Regions from separate parts of the Homo sapiens genome. Here region 2 is linked to region 1. A link means that fine-mapping ties the variant in region 1 to the expression of a gene that starts in the linked region. Tissue or cell type: aorta. Region 1 holds a variant in brackets; the other region holds the start of a gene. All regions are shown on one strand. Distances are between the middles of the regions.

Region 1 (8,000 bases):
CCTTCTGGTACTAAACAAGTGTTTTCTCATTCACTTTATTATTATTATTTCTGTCATAGCCTTCCATGCCACTTAAAGGTGTCCCTCTCAGGGCCTTGTGCCACCTAAGTGTTACCTCACCCAGCCGGCAGACTATTGCAGAGGATTCAGATCATTAACAACAGTAATAGCATATGTTTCAGTTTCTATTTTTTAGAATAACAAACAAAATGAGTATTTAAATATTTAAAGTTTTTCACCTTTGAAATTGAATATTTGGCAGTCAGGAATGCATAGAAAGTTAGTGTATTGGTTAATGGAGCTCGCCGGTAGCGATTCAATACTTGGTTAACTTATTACTTTGTTTAACACTTCTGGACACTATTGTAATCTTAACCATTTTCAGTTTAAACTTGTTTTTATTGTTATTCACATTTAATTTGCACCCATAATATACCATTGAATAGATAGGAAACCTTAAAAAAAACACTGAGTTTGAAATTCAGTGATAATAAGGAATCTTAAAAAAGATAATTAGGGAAATTTACCTCAGTCTTCAACAGATCCACAAGTTCCATTCATCTGATCAAAATTCTTATACCAACGCTTGATATTTTTAATGTTTCAAAGCCAGTGTTAAGAAGAGAGAATTGTGATAACTTTATTTAGATTGGCTGTACATTTATTGAAAATCAAGTGCTACAATATATAATTTGAAAGAAGTGCTAGACAGTAGCAGCCTGAAATGCTCTCTTTTAACTAGCCATTTAGAAACAACATACTCAATATTATATAAAAGAAGACAATTCATTTTTAAGCATAAAATGCAAAGAACTAACATAAGGTTACCAGTTAAAAGGGTTACCTATCTATTGTTTTTTTAAATTGGTTTGTTTTTACTTACATTCAGTTTTTATTATTTAAAAAAGCACACATTGACCACATTGCTTTTTAACATGTTCAGCCACATTTGAATTCTTTTTCTTTTTAAATATACCATGCTCTCCCCCATGAGCCTTTATGTATATGCTGATTTCTTGCTTGGAATAGTATTTTCAGCCTTTCACCTACTTGATTTTTTCCCAAGTTTTAAATCCCAAGTCTCTCCCCAAACATCCTCTTGTATAATTATAACATTAATTGTATCATATTACAATTGATTTTTAGTTGACTAATCCTATTCTAGAAGTGCTATGTGAGTAGGAGATTGCTCTATTCCTAGATGTCACTACGATACCTAATACTGGTAGATAACAAATAGTTTGCTAAAAATTCCATTATAAATTCCAAATTATGTGGATCAAGTTAAAGTTCATAAGCCTATTTGGAAGTTCAGATATCAAAAAGCAATGGCTGTAATTGGTCTTCTGTCTCTATGGGTCCGGAATTTCTTTATTAATAAGGTCGTCTGGTATGTCAGATTATTACTGAAAATGTCATATTTCTGTGGTCTCCCTGCCCCTTTCTTAAGGGAAGGAGAAAGGAAAGGAGAGAAATTGCTGTTGTGTGGGTTGTATTTGAATTGTTCACCTGAGATCAGGAATTGTGTCTTGTTTTTACCTTATTCAGTGCCTAGCATACTACTGGAGTACAATAAATAAGTAATAATGGTGAGGAATATACTAGTAGACAATCTGTAGCGCTGAAAAATAATGCAAAGAATGGAAGAAATATTCTTTTAAGTTCTAAGTTCAGGTAAAGAGAGTGCTTTGGGATATGTTTTTGAGTTTAGTAGGAATCATAATTTCTGCAACAGATTGTCCTTATGTGTTGACATTCCATATCCTTAAGAAGAAAATACTGAATTATTGTGCTTTCCCAGAAGAAATATAGAGAAAGATATAGGGTATTATAGAAATTTTAAACTATGACCAAATGCTCCTACAATATTAATAGCAATGTAGAATGGTAAGTTTAAAAAAAAGAAAAAGAAACAAAGCAATTCAGGAGGCAGATGGTAAGAATGTCAGCCCACCTGAGAATAGCTCTGAACTCTGAGCTTTAACTGCTGAACCCAAACCAAGCCGTATAAGGAGATGGGTCCTGAGTTAAACTGCTGGCTGTCTTGTCAGCTTTGTTTGATGTTACTTTTCCCTTTGAAGATTTTGTGTTTCGTATCAAGTTTGTGGCAACATAAGAATGGTTCTATATTACATGTGTGTTTCTCAGCATTGTTAACAGCTTTGTCTTTATTGTCACTGATATATTTAATTCAGTGATCCTAGTTCGCATGGTGGCAGTGTGGTATTTTCATCAGTTTAAGGATGAGAAGAGCAGAGATATTTAAAAGGAAATGTCAAAAGACTTTTTCTTTAGATCTGTGCCAGAAAAAAACACTTATTTATGATTTAGAACTTATGAGACACATATAGGGTACATTAGACAGGATGATAAGAAATTGTGCTTGCTTTTATTTCTGCAAATGGTGGGAACATTGTATGTTTAAAAAGATCAGGTTATTGATATGAAATAATTTAACAATTAAACATATAATAGCAATGAATTAATACTTGTATATTTAGAACCAGATGCAGGTCTAAGTATATTTTTGATTTTGCAAAGCTTGGGATCTCGAAGTCAGACATTGTGTATTATTTAACCTTATAGCCTTAGCAGCACCCACACTGTACCTGACTCATTGCCAAGTGCCCAACGAAGGTTTATTGAATCAATCAATAAATTATCTTCCCTTTTGAAGAGTTCTAAAATCTTTTAGAGCTCTTTCTCTTCCCATCTTTTATGCAGGCAAGGTAGTTGTATCTGCACATGGATTGAATACAAAAAGGCATAATGAAGAGTTGCTGATTTGATGGAACTTATAATCAGTTGGTGAGTCAGGATAGACTCCTGTAGTGCAATAAGGTGATAAATGCTCATGGGGTTTGAAAAGATAAATTTATTGAAATGAGATGGTTAGGGAATATTTTTAAGAAGTTGTATTTGAGCTTGATTTTGAAGGAATGATAGGGCTTGAACAAGGAATTCCAGGCAGGGAGAACTATGTGAACCGAAACAGGATGCCACTAGCCTGTAAGAGAGTAAGGTTAAACTATGTGTTGTTTTTTCTTTTGCAGTAATGTTGATGTTTTTATTTCTTTCTGCAGTTCTTTACAATTTTTGAAATATACCCATATACATACCCTTACAGGTTTTTTTGTGATAAACGTGATATTTGTAAGATTCAGAAAAGTTGGGGGATTTTCTCAGCATCATCTAGTTATTAAACCAAAGAGCTGAGAGTGCTGGCTTTTTGTAAACCACTGTGGCTATTGCTTTTCTTTTTGGCCAAAGTCATCTACACTTAATTATTGAAGCCTTCTTGTGACCACTGGAAAGTATCTTTCAGGTAAAGGCATAATCTGTGAACATGAAACAGAAGAGGACTTGTCGATATATAGTTTTTGAGCCAGAGGGTTGCTAAAATGCTGTAAAAGGAAAGGATGGGGAGGAGGAGAAGGATTAGCTAACATTTATCTAATACTTTCCATGTGTGAGACATTGTCAGGGCCTTAAATGTGTTAATGTATTCAATACTTACAACACTCTTATGGGGATATATTATTTTTATGAACTCTTATTATGCTGTATTGCTTATTACGTATTGAAGCAAATATTTGAACACAGGCAGTTCAGCTCAAGAGCCCATTCATAGTAGCTAGGCATGCGGGTTTAAATGAAAGGATGCCTGTAAGGTTCCTGTTATTATTGTTAATGCCATTTCCTTTATGTTATAATCAATTGAGGATAGACATAATTTTTACTTGTTTTCAAAGTAGGAAGGAACTACCAAGGCCACAAAGTAACTCCTTTATTCTAGGCAGAGCATGGTAGTTGGGTTAGAATTCTTTTTCTTTCTTTTTTCTTTCTTTCTTTCTTTCTTTCTTTCTTTCTTTCTTTCTTTCTTTCTTTTTTATCATTATACTTTAAGTTTTAGGGTACATGTGCACAATATGCAGGTTAGTTACATATGTATACATGTGCCATGCTGGTGCGCTGCACCCACTAACTCGTCATCTAGCATTAGGTATATCTCCCAATGCTATCCCTCTCCCCCGCCCACCCCACAACAGTCCCCAGAGTGTGATGTTCCCCTTCCTGTGTCCATGTGTTCTCATTGTTCA[A/G]TTCCCACCTATGAGTGAGAATATGCGGTGTTTGGTTTTTTGTTCTTGTGATAGTTTACTGAGAATGATGATTTCCAATTTCATCCATGTCCCTACAAAGGACATGAACTCATCATTTTTTATGGCTGCATAGTATTCCATGGTGTATATGTGCCACATTTTCTTAATCCAGTCTATCGTTGTTGGACATTTGGGTTGGTTCCAAGTCTTTGCTATTGTGAATAATGCCGCAATAAACATAGGTGTGCATGTGTCTTTATAGCAGCATGATTTATAGTCCTTTGGGTATATACCCAGTAATGGGATGGCTGGGTCAGATGGTATTTCTAGTTCTAGATCCCTGAGGAATCGCCACACTGACTTCCACAATGGTAGAACTAGTTTACAGTCCCACCAACAGTGTAAAAGTGTTCCTATTTCTCCACATCCTCTCCAGCACCTGTTGTTTCCTGACTTTTTAATGATTGCCATTCTAACTGGTGTGAGATGATATCTCACTGTGGTTTTGATTTGCATTGCTCTGATGGCCAGTGATGGTGAGCATTTTTTCATGTGTTTTTTGGCTGCATAAATGTCTTCTTTTGAGTAGTGTCTGTTCATGTCCTTCACCCCCTTTTTGATGGGGTTGTTTGTTTTTTTCTTGTAAATTTGTTTGAGTTCATTGTAGATTCTGGATATTAGCCCTTTGTCAGATGTGTAGGTTGCGAAGATTTTCTCCCATTTTGTGGGTTGCCTGTTCACTCTGATGGTAGTTTCTTTTGCTGTGCAGAAGCTCTTTAGTTTAATTAGATCCCATTTGTCAATTTTGCCTTTGGTTGCCATTGCTTTTGGTGTTTTAGACATGAAGTCCTTGCCCATGCCTATGTCCTGAATGGTAATGCCTAGGTTTTCTTCTCTGGTTTTTATGGTTTTAGGTCTATCGTTTAAGTCTTTAATCCATCTTGAATTGATTTTAGTATAAGGTGTAAGGAAGGGATCCAGTTTCAGCTTTCTACATATGGCTAGCCAGTTTTCCCAGCATCATTTATTAAATAGGGAATCCTTTCCCCATTGCTTGTTTTTCTCAGGTTTGTCAAAGATCAGATAGTTGTAGATATATGGCATTATTTCTGAGGGCTCTGTTCTGTTCCATTGATCTATATCTCAGTTTTGGTACCAGTACCATGCTGTTTTGGTTACTGTAGCCAAAATCTCCTTAAGCTGATAAGCAACTTCAGCAAAGTCTCAGGATACAAAATCAATGTGCAAAAATCACAAGCGTTCTTATACACCAATAACAGACAAACAGAGAGCCGAATCATGAGTGAACTCCCATTCACAATTGCTTCAAAGAGAATAAAATACCTAAGAATCCACCTTACAAGGGACGTGAAGGACCTCTTCAAGTAGAACTACAAACCACTGCTCAACAAAATAAAACAGGATACAAACAAATGGAAGAACATTCCATGCTCATGGGTAGGAAGAATCAATATCGTGAAAATGGCCATACTGCCCAAGGTAATTTCTACATTCAATGCCATCCCCATCAAGCTACCAATGACTTTCTTCACAGAATTGGAAAAAAATACTTTAAAGTTCATATGGAACCAAAAGAGAGCCTGCATCGCCAAGTCAATCCTAAGCCAAAAGAACAAAGCTGGAGGCATCACACTACCTGACTTCAAACTATACTACAAAGCTAGAATTCTTATAGTTTTGAATTAGATGCCTTTTGATGGGCATTTTTGTACCTCTGCCTAAGTAAATGTTGTTTAGTTAGGTTTCAAGATATGTTGTTAAATGCTTGACTTATTGATGACGGGGAGATAGCACTTTTATATATAAACACTTTTTTTCTGAATTACAGGGTTTTGTTGTTTAGGTTGTACAATTAGCATTTTAATCTGTCTCAGTTTTATTGTATCATAAGAATCTGTGATAATAAAATTACATTCATTTAGAAACTAAAAAACATGATTCTAACAAGTCAAACTAAGTTGGGATTTTAGAAAGACAACAAATACCTATAATATGAATTTGGATAATGGAAGAACAAGTGATGTGTGTCACCATTGTTATAAACCCTTTCTACATATATTTATTAGAAAATTATAGTTGCATATATATCATAGAAATTCTGAGACCTTAACATTCATAGACGTTAAAAACTTATAGGGTGTTTGTGGAATTTATGGATAAAAGCTTATGTTATGACATCACTAAATACACTTTTAAAATACCCTACTTGTATACCCATTAAACAGTAATTTCCCATTTCCCCCATCTCCCTAGATCCTGGCAATCACCATTCTATTTTTTCTCTATTATTTTGACGACTCTAAGTATTTCATATAAGTAGAATTCTACAGTATTTGTCTTTTCGTGCATGGCCTATTTCACTTAGCATAATGTCCTCAAGGTTAATACATGTTGTAGCATAGTAGCATATATCAGCATTTCCTTCTTTTGTAGGGCTGAATAATATTCCATTGTATGTATATAGCACATTCTGCTTATTCAGTCATCCATTGATGGACATGGGTTACTTCCTTGTTTTAGCAATTGTGAATAATGTTCCTACGAATGTGGGTATACAAATATCTCTTCAAGACCCTACTTTCAATTCTTTCAGGGTTATACCCAGAAGTGAAATTACTGGATCATTTGGTGATTCTATTTTTTTTTCCCAGTGGTTCATAATGGGCATACAAGTATGCTTCCATATTTTTTTTAATTTTTTTATTTTTTTTTAATTTATTATTATTTAGGTTTTAGAGTACATGTGCACAATGTGCAGGTTAGTTACATATGTATACATGTGCCATGCTGGTGCGCTGCACCCACTAACTCATCATCTAGCATTGGGTATATCTCCCAATGCTATCCCTCCCCGCTGCCCCCACCCCACAACAGTCCCCACAGTGTGATGTTCCCCTTCCTGTGTCCATGTGTTCTCATTGTTCAATTCCCACCTATGAGTGAGAATATGTGGTGTTTGGTTTTTTGTTCTTGCGATAGTTTACTGAGAATGATGATTTCTAATTTCATCCATGTCCCTACAAAGGACATGAACTCATCATTTTTTATGGCTGCATAGTATTCCATGGTGCATATGTGCCACATTTTCTTAATCCAGTCTATCGTTGTTGGACATTTGGGTTGGTTCCAAGTCTTTGCTATTGTGAATAATGCCGCAATAAACATAGGTGTGCATGTGTCTTTATAGCAGCATGATTTATAGTCCTTTGGGTATATACCCAGTAATGGGATGGCTGGGTCAGATGGTATTTCTAGTTCTAGATCCCTGAGGAATCACCACACTGACTTCCACAATGGTAGAACTAGTTTACAGTCCCACCAACAGTGTAAAAGTGTTCCTATTTCTCCACATCCTCTCCAGCACCTGTTGTTTCCTGACTTTTTAATGATTGCCATTCTAACTGGTGTGAGATGATATCTCATTGTGGTTTTGATTTGCATTGCTCTGATGGCCAGTGATGGTGAGCATTTTTTCATGTGTTTTTTGGCTGCATAAATGTCTTCTTTTGAGTAGTGTCTGTTCATGTCCTTCGCCCCCTTTTTGATGGGGTTGTTTTTTTCTTTTAAATTTGTTTGAGTTCATTGTAGATTCTGGATATTAGCCCTTTGTCAGATGAGTAGGTTGCGAAGATTTTCTCCCATTTTGTGGGTTGCCTGTTCACTCTGATGGTAGTTTCTTTTGCTGTGCAGAAGCTCTTTAGTTTAATTAGATCCCATTTGTCAATTTTGGCTTTGGTTGCCATTGCTTTTGGTGTTTTAGACATGAAGTCCTTGCCCATGCCTATGTCCTGAATGGTAATGCCTAGGTTTTCTTCTCTGGTTTTTATGGTTTTAGGTCTAACATTTAAGTCTTTAATCCATCTCGAATTGATTTTAGTG
Region 2 (8,144 bases), 390 kb before region 1:
TCTTCCGATAGAAGGCTGTTTTCTGTACATTGTAAATCTGTTGTTCAGAATAGTCATCATCAATGATCTTAGCTACATCTTCTGGATAACTTGTTGCAGCTGCTACATCAGCACTTGTTGGTTTACTTTGCACTTGAATGTTACAAAGAAGGCTTCTTTCTTTAAAACTTATGAACCAATTTCTGCTAGCTTCCAACTTTTCTTCTGCAGCTTCTTCACCTCTCTCAGCCTTCGCAGAATTTAAGAGAGTTTGGGTCTTACTCTGAATTAAGCTTTGGCCTAATTCAGGGAGTGTTGCTGGTTTGATCTTCTACCTAGACACTACAACTTTCTTCATATCACTAATAAGGCTGTTTCACGTTCTTATAATTTGTGTGTCCACTGGAGTCTCATCCTGTCACCAAGGCTAGACTCAAATTCCTTGCCTCCCATTTTAGCCTCCCAAAGTGCTGGCATTCCCCTGCCTCAGCCTCCCAAAGTGCTGGGATTACAGGCTTGAGCCACCACACCTGGCCTAATTTCCTTCAAGAATTTTTCCTGTGCATTAATACCTTGGCTACCATTTGGCGCAAGAGGCCTAGCTCTCAGCCTGTCTCGGATTTTGACATGCCTTCCTCACTAAGCTAATCATTTCTAGCTTTAGGTGTGTCTTCCTTTCACTTTAATGCTTAGAATTAGAAGTCATTGTAATTTGGGGGACACATTCAAACCATAGCAAATGTGAAACCCCTTAGTATAGTGCTTGGCACATATTACATGTTTAATAATGTTATTTGGCTAAGAGTGGTGGTTCACACCTATAATCCCAGCACTTTGGGAGGCCAAGGTGGGCGGATCACTTGAGATCAGCCTAGGCAACATAATGAAACCCTGTCTCTGAAAATAAAAAACATATAAATTTAAAAAACAAACACAAAATAATATTATCTGGATTTAAATCTTGTATATTAACCTATGTATCTTAATACTTTTAACACAAGCCCATGCCTACCTCTTATTACATTTATTCCCAAACATTTTGTGTTTTCTTTTGCTAATGTAAGAATGAGAAGGAAGATTTATTGCAAGGTCAGAAAAAGCAAGTCTGGAAAGGCGGGTAGGGAGATTAGGGCCCTTGACTGACAGCAGAAAATCTGGGTTTTATCCAGGCAGCAATTGAGGGGCCACCAAAAGAAATAATCAGTATAGTAACATAATCAGAGTTATGCTTTAGAAGGATATTTCCGTTTTAGCATATAGAAGGAGCATAGGACCAGAGCCACTGAGAGCAACAATTATGGCAAGGCCTTTCAGTTCTACGAATTGATACCAAGGCAGCATAATAATCAAGAAGCTGTGGGGTGGGGGGTGGGGGGTGGGAGACTAGGGGAGGGATAGCATTAGGAAAAATACCTAATGTAGATGACGGGTTGATGGGTGCAGCAAACCACCATGGCACATGTATAGCTATGTAACAAACCTGCACATTCTGCACATGTACCCCAGAACTTAAAGTATAATTAAAAAAAATAATAATCAAAACCTGGTATTTAAACCTTCTAGGGGAGGTTACAGAAGGGTCAAAAGAATGTGGTTCATCTGGTGCTTTAAAACTCTGAGGCTCACATACGTACAATCAGTTTATTACACTCCCCTAGTTTCATAAAGATACAGGTGTTCTTAGACCTGCTTTTGATTTTTTTCTATTTTTTTGATCCTCTCTTCTTATATATGCCAGTTTAAAAATGCCCTAGATGTTAATGGTCAACTTCTAAAAATGTCAAGAATTTGCACAGAAGGGGAAGGTGAGTGACTTGCATTGGGCCACAAGGAAGGTCCTAATTATGAGTGTCTCAATAGGAAGCAATAAGGAAACAGACAAATGAAGTTGCTTAGTACTAAGTAGGCACAGAAAGAAGACATGAGGTTTAGAGAAAAAGTAGGAATCCTGCATGCAGGAAGTGAGAGTTTGAGAGAGAAAGACGCAAACAAAATTTTTAGGGTTTTTCTTGCCTGGGTGTCTAGGAGATTAGAAGTTTTATAAACAGGTGGGAGAGTAGTTTAGAGGATTCCCACAAGAAGTTAGAAAGATAATTAAAATTTAGTTATATTAAATTAAGTATTTCCAGAAATTAGAGTGGCACTGTTCAAACCGGGGTTAAAAATTCAAAACTAGAGCTCAGGAGAGGTCAGAGATGGATATAAAGAGTTGAATATTGGGGATATGGAGTTCATACTTGCAGGAATGGATGACATCACTGAGGACGCTTATCTGGTACAAACGATGGGAAGGTTGAGGGCAGAAACTGAGAAAATATCACTTTGAGGGGCAGGAAGGGAAGAATGGTTTCCTGAGCAGCAGCAGAAAGTTCAGAGAGTTGGAGAAACAATGGAGTATAGAGTCTCACCTTTGCTGGAGAGGCATCTGAGGATCAACATGTGTCAGCAAAGTCAAGGGGTCTCAGATTTGGCAATGAGGTCACTACTGACTTTGGAAGCTATTGGTAGAGTGGTGTGAATGAATGAATCTAATCATATCTCAAAAGGATTGGTAGAAAGAAGAGAGAGAAATGAAGTGATGTTGAGGCCAAAAGATAAGCGGGTAGGAGAACATCTCTTTATATAGCTTTTTTCAAGTAGTAGTAGCATGTTAAGCAAATAAAAGACAACAGAGAATCTCCACGCATTTTGAAATGGTCTGATTTATTGTGTAATTTTTATATTTTTTCTGCTTAAAACCCTTCATTAGCTTCATTGCTTGATAAACTCCTAAGTATGATGTAGAAATTCCTCTGTGATCTGGGTTCTGCATATTTCTCTAGCCTCATCGCTCACACCTCCTTTGCACAGACAGCTTTTTCCAGCTTTTCAAATGTCTGGTGCTGGTTCTTATGCTGGTGTTTGCAGCTTCCGTGTCTTCCTTCTAGTTCCTTGTTAGCTTCATAAATCTTTAACGGTCTTCTTAAACTAAGCTCAAAGTTCTTTTCTATGAATCATTTCTGGGAGCTCAGGGTTGATATCAATATTCCCCTGTATTTCTATCATCTAGCTCCATGTTGGGTACATAGTCTGTATTCTGTAAATGCTGAATGAACAAATAAATGAAAACGGGTCTTCACATCACATCCATTTTTCATTTCAAAAACATACAATATAGTACATAGCATTTATTCTTGCGATACAATATTCACTTTTGTGACTTTGTTAAAACACAAATAATTTTTTTTTTTTTTTTTTTGAGACGGAGTCGCGCTCTGTCGCCCAGGCTGGAGTGCAGTGACGCAATCTCGGCTCACTGCAAGCTCCACCACCCGGGTTCACGCCATTCTCCTGCCTCAGCCTCCCGAGTAGCTGGGACTACAGGCGCCCGCCACCACGCCCAGCTAATTTTTTTTGTATTTTTAGTAGAGACAGGGTTTCACCGTGTCAGCCAGGATGGTCTCGGTCCCCTGACCTCATGATCCGCCCACCTCGGCCTCCCAAAGTGCTGGGATTACAGACGTGAGCCACCGCGCCCGGCCAACACAAATGAAATTTTAAGTAGTTCCAGCTACTCAGGAGGCTGAGGCAGGAGGATGGCTTGAGTCCTGAAGGTCTAGGCTGCAGCGAGGCGTGATTGTGCCGCTGTACTCTAGCCTGGGCAACAGAGAACAACCCTGTTTCAAAAAAAAAAAAAAAAAAAAGAAAAAGAAAAAAATAAAATTTAAAAATATTTTTTAAAGCTTGTAACATAAAAGTTCTAATCTCATTAGTCAGTTGTAATTTTCCATTTCATTTCTAAACTTTAGAGTGGGCTATTTTTTCCCTTTATTTCCTCTGGAGCAATTGTCCTCTTTATGGCTCTAGTAAAAAGAATCAGGGACAGGCCTCCGTTTTAGATGTAAATGACTAAAATCAAACCAATTAAGGTTTCAGTGCTACAAGAATCAAGGAGGTTTTAATCTCAATTTGTGTTTGCATTTATGACCGTTGGCTCTCCCATGGGAGAGAGAAAAGACGGCCCCTACACCTGGTTTCAGGTTGATTACAATCAACAAGGACCCAGTTTAGTATAGAAGGCTCGTTTTGCATTAAACACCTTTTTGTGCAGAGGAGGTGGTGGTGGTGAAGATAAAAATCTTTGACCAAATCCTGTCAATTTGCATTGTTCTCTGGAAGAATAGGCTTTCAAAAGTTAAGGAACAAAAGAGGAGTTGGTTTTCCAGTCTCCCTTAGGCGGCAGCAGATTGTGAAGCAGCCACCGGGAGGAACCAAAGTATAAATTATCAATAAGAGGACGGTGTGTGTGTGTGTGTGTGTGTGTGTGTGTGTGTGTGTGTGTGTGTCAGAGAAAAGTGAGAGAAGCGAGGAAAGAGATAGGGAACACACATGCTAAGGCTCCGAGGCGTTTTCCACGATGTGCCTGGTTACGTAATGTTGATAATGAAACGCACTGCAAGCAGCATCAATGCATTCTTCCGACCCTGCTCACCACTCCCAGCTGGGATACAATGGGGACGGGAAGAGGGGACAGGATGCCCTGTGCAGGCAGAGAGCTGTCCAGACAGAGGTAAACCAGGCAGTTGGGCAGAACCCGAGCCCAGAGAATTTCTCCCCAGGCCCCGGGACCAGCCCACCGTTGCTGTGGCTCTAAAGATGGGCAGAAGAACCAGTTTCAAAAAGCAGGATCTGGGATCCGACCTCTTAGGTTTTTATTCAGCAGGCAGGGAAAAGGGGTTAGAAGCTGGAAATCTGCATTTCCACTCGGCTCTGGCGACTGAGACAGGAACGCGGACACCTCACGCTGAAAAGCCACAGCAGCGCGTGGGCAGGGCGCACCCCCGCGCGGGGACGCGGAGCTCCTGGAGCGAGAGCGCGTGCGGTCGCGAGCCCGCCGCTCCCCAGCAACGGCGCATGCGCCCGTTCGTCCCTCAGCGAAGGCGCGCTGCTTGGCGGGCGGGCTCTTCCAATCCGAGCCAGCGTTCTCGGAGTACGTATCCAGGAGCTGCAAGCTGAGGGCTGCGGGAGGCGGGAGGAAAAAGTGGGGCCGGGCCTGAGTTGGGCTGACCTGTGAAAGTCTGGGAAGGTCTGCGAGAGAAGCGGAGTGTTTTCAGCTCCGGAAGTGGCAGTTGTAAACTTCACCTCCCGGGGGCTCTTCCCCTTCTGTACCCCTTTGCTGTTTGTCCCCCTCCTCCCGGGTCCTGGAGTCCGTCGTGTTCCAACAGTTTTTGCTCTTATTCCCGTGGGCTGCCTGGGCCTCCTTTCACCCGTGAGACTTGGAGCGGCCCCTGGGGTCTTGGGTGTGCAGCACGGATCACGCGAGACCCCTGAGGTAACCGCACGGTGTGGGGGCTTCGAGGCGGACGACTTGGGAGGGAGGTGTTGAGAGGGTTGTAGGGGCCCCTGAGTGAGTTTGGGGCGGCCCTGGGGCTGTTGGCGTAGGCTTTGGGGCACGCCTCCAGCTCCCTGGGCTGGGTCTCCCCGCCCACCTGGAGGAAGATCTCCGTGGAGCATCCTAGCCAGAGATCGCTGAGGCTGTACCAGAGCGCCGGATGGGGACCAGAGGGGAGGCAGAGGACCGGGATTTGGAGCTTCTTAGGGTTACTGCTGCGGAGCGCTTTCGTTCCCGAGAATCAGTAAGCCCCTCGAGGATAGGGACCACGTCTTTCAGCCCGCTCTCCCCTTTTTAAATGCCGGCCACACACTAGACACTCTACAGATGTTTGATAAACGGGAATGAGTTGTGCTAGACTGTCACCTGCAGCTTCTACCTACCCTCCAGGACTCTGAGAGACTTAGAATCTGAGTCAGCTGTGCGTTTTCCCGAAGCTGTAAATTTTCTGCAGAAATGGAGCCGACTTTTTGAATTTTTTTATTCCATTATGATATTGATCCTAAGAAAATACATATTTCATGTATACATTTTAGGTAAATGAGATAAATACGTCTTTATTTTGTTTATTAGAGTTGGTGTCCAGCTCTTTTGAATACATGACATACCGATGTTTTATGGTTTTCATAATATTGGAGAAAAGAACATACGATTTTGTCACTTTTTTTTTTTTTTGAGATGGAGTCTTGCTCTGTCACCCAGGCTGGAGTGCAGTGGCGCGATCTCGGCTCACTGCAAGCTCCGCCTCCCGGGTTCACGCCATTCTCCTGTCTCAGCCTCCCCAGCAGCCGGGACAACCGGCGCACGCCGCCACGCCCGGCTAATTTTTTTGTATTTTTAGTGGAGACGGGGTTTCACTGTGTTAGCCAGGATGGTCTCGATCTCCTGACATCGTGATCCGCCCGCCTCGGCCTCCCAAAGTGCTGGGATTACAGGCGTGAGCCACTGCGCCCGGCATGTCACTTATTTTATTTAACTGTTAGTTCCTACTCTCAACAAAACAGTGGTAGAGCAGAAGATGAACATGGTTTTTCATAAAATGCAGAGGAAACAAAGGCAGTGCAACCTGCTAAGAGGAAAGATGAAGGGCATAGTCTTAGTTTGTAGCTTTCTGTGTTAGTCTTGGGGCTCAGCCATTTATGAGCTGCGTCCCCACAGGCAAACCACCTAACCTTCCTAGGCGTTAGGTTCTTTATCTGTCAGATAAGGAGGAAGGACTTAGTCTCTAAAGTCTCATTTGATTCTAAAACGTTTTGGTTGTCTCAGTCCCTTGGTCTTGGTCTTGTTTTGATGTAAGAACCAAACTTCCCCTTTAAAGGTTGATTATGTACCTATGCTGAGAAACACTTCCAACACAGGTGTGGTTACTAATGAAGACAGCACTGCGTAGTGAAAGAGGATGGACTTAGCCAGATGTGGATTTGAATTCTCATTTTCCGGCTGAATATTTTTACACAAATTATTCAACATCTCCAAGCCTCAGTTTTCTTATCTGTGAAATGTGCATAATCTCATAGAGATGTTGGGATTAAATGAGATCAGGAATGCTGATCTCAGTATCTGGCATATAGTAAGTGGCTCAATAATAGGAATTTCTATTTTTTCATCCACCCATCCCTCGTTTTTCCTCTGATCTGTGCAGACACACTGAAAGATGAGTGCATTTGGGATGACCAACTGAAGGACTCAGATGTAAGGTAGAAAAATTTTTTACCAGTAGTGGCTCCGAAATCTAAAGTAGATTCGCCTTTCTGGCTGGCACCTCCTCTCAGGATGTCGGGATCACTGATCCCTTGGCCTCAATTACCCTTTTATCTATTTTTAAAAATGCTTCTCATTGATGAATGATACACATAATATCCCATCATCTATTTTAGTAGGAATGGTGAGATTAGTTCAACTCCACTATCAAAAAAAGATTAATCTATTAATACATTAACATAAAAAGCTAATTTGAACCTTGCCTTTCTTTATCTATTACTGCTACAGGATGGCCTGGTTTTGGTCCAGAACTGTGAAGGTGCTATCTGGATTGAGAATCGACTGAAGGTCTGAGTAATCTTTTGTTGAGAAGGCCATGGCTTGTCAGTTTCGATACGGGGAAAAATGATATTTTTAAGAAATCTCCAGCAAAGAGCAGAAATGCTTCCCTGATAAGTGAGGTCTTACATGCTTCCCTGACTGGGATGAACTGTGTCTTGAGGGCCAATAGCAAGGCACACAGCAGAGCTCTGGAGTCAGCTAACTTGGGTGTAAATCCTGACCCTGTCACTAGAGATGTGAGAGATGTGACTTTAGTCAAGTGACTGAGTATCTATTTTTATTTCTTTTATTATTATACTTTAAGTTATAGAGTACATGTGCACAATGTGCAGGTTTGTTACATATGCATACATGTGCCATGTTGGTGTGCTGCACCTGTTAACTCGTCATTTACATTAAGTATATCTCCTAATGCTATACCTCCCACCTTCCCCCACTCTCTGCCAGGCCCCGGTGTGTGATGTTCCCCACCCTGTGTCCAAGTATTCTCGTTGTTCAATTCCTACCTAAGAGTGAGAACATGCGGTGTTTGGTTTTCTGTCCTTGCGATATTTTGCTCAGAATGATGGTTTCTAGCTTTATCCATCTCCCTACAAAGGACATGAACTCATCCTTTTTTATGGCTACATAGTATTCCATGGTGTATATGTGCCACATTTTCTTAATCCAGTCTATCATTGATGGACATTTGGGTTGGTTCCAAGTGTTTGCTATGGTGAATGGTGCCGCAATAAACATATGTGTGCATGTG

What was found. PIP is the estimated chance that this variant, and not a neighbour inherited with it, causes the effect.
Region 2: CCDC171 starts here. The variant in region 1 is fine-mapped to the expression of CCDC171 in aorta (GTEx, PIP above 0.99).

What each region holds. Positions count from the first base shown.
Region 1 is chr9:15,941,000-15,948,999 of GRCh38, forward strand. The region is part of intron 25 of CCDC171 (coiled-coil domain containing 171); the gene reads left to right. Among named protein-coding and RNA genes, the nearest start is that of LINC03041, 330 kb to the right of the region's middle. The variant A/G (reference allele first, on the strand shown) is at 4,101.
Region 2 is chr9:15,548,013-15,556,156 of GRCh38, forward strand. CCDC171 (coiled-coil domain containing 171) reads left to right here and starts at 5,031. Exons shown (of 26, transcript NM_173550.4): 1 at 5,031-5,290. RefSeq lists enhancers at 4,628-5,273, 5,169-5,338 and silencers at 4,729-4,788, 4,799-4,888.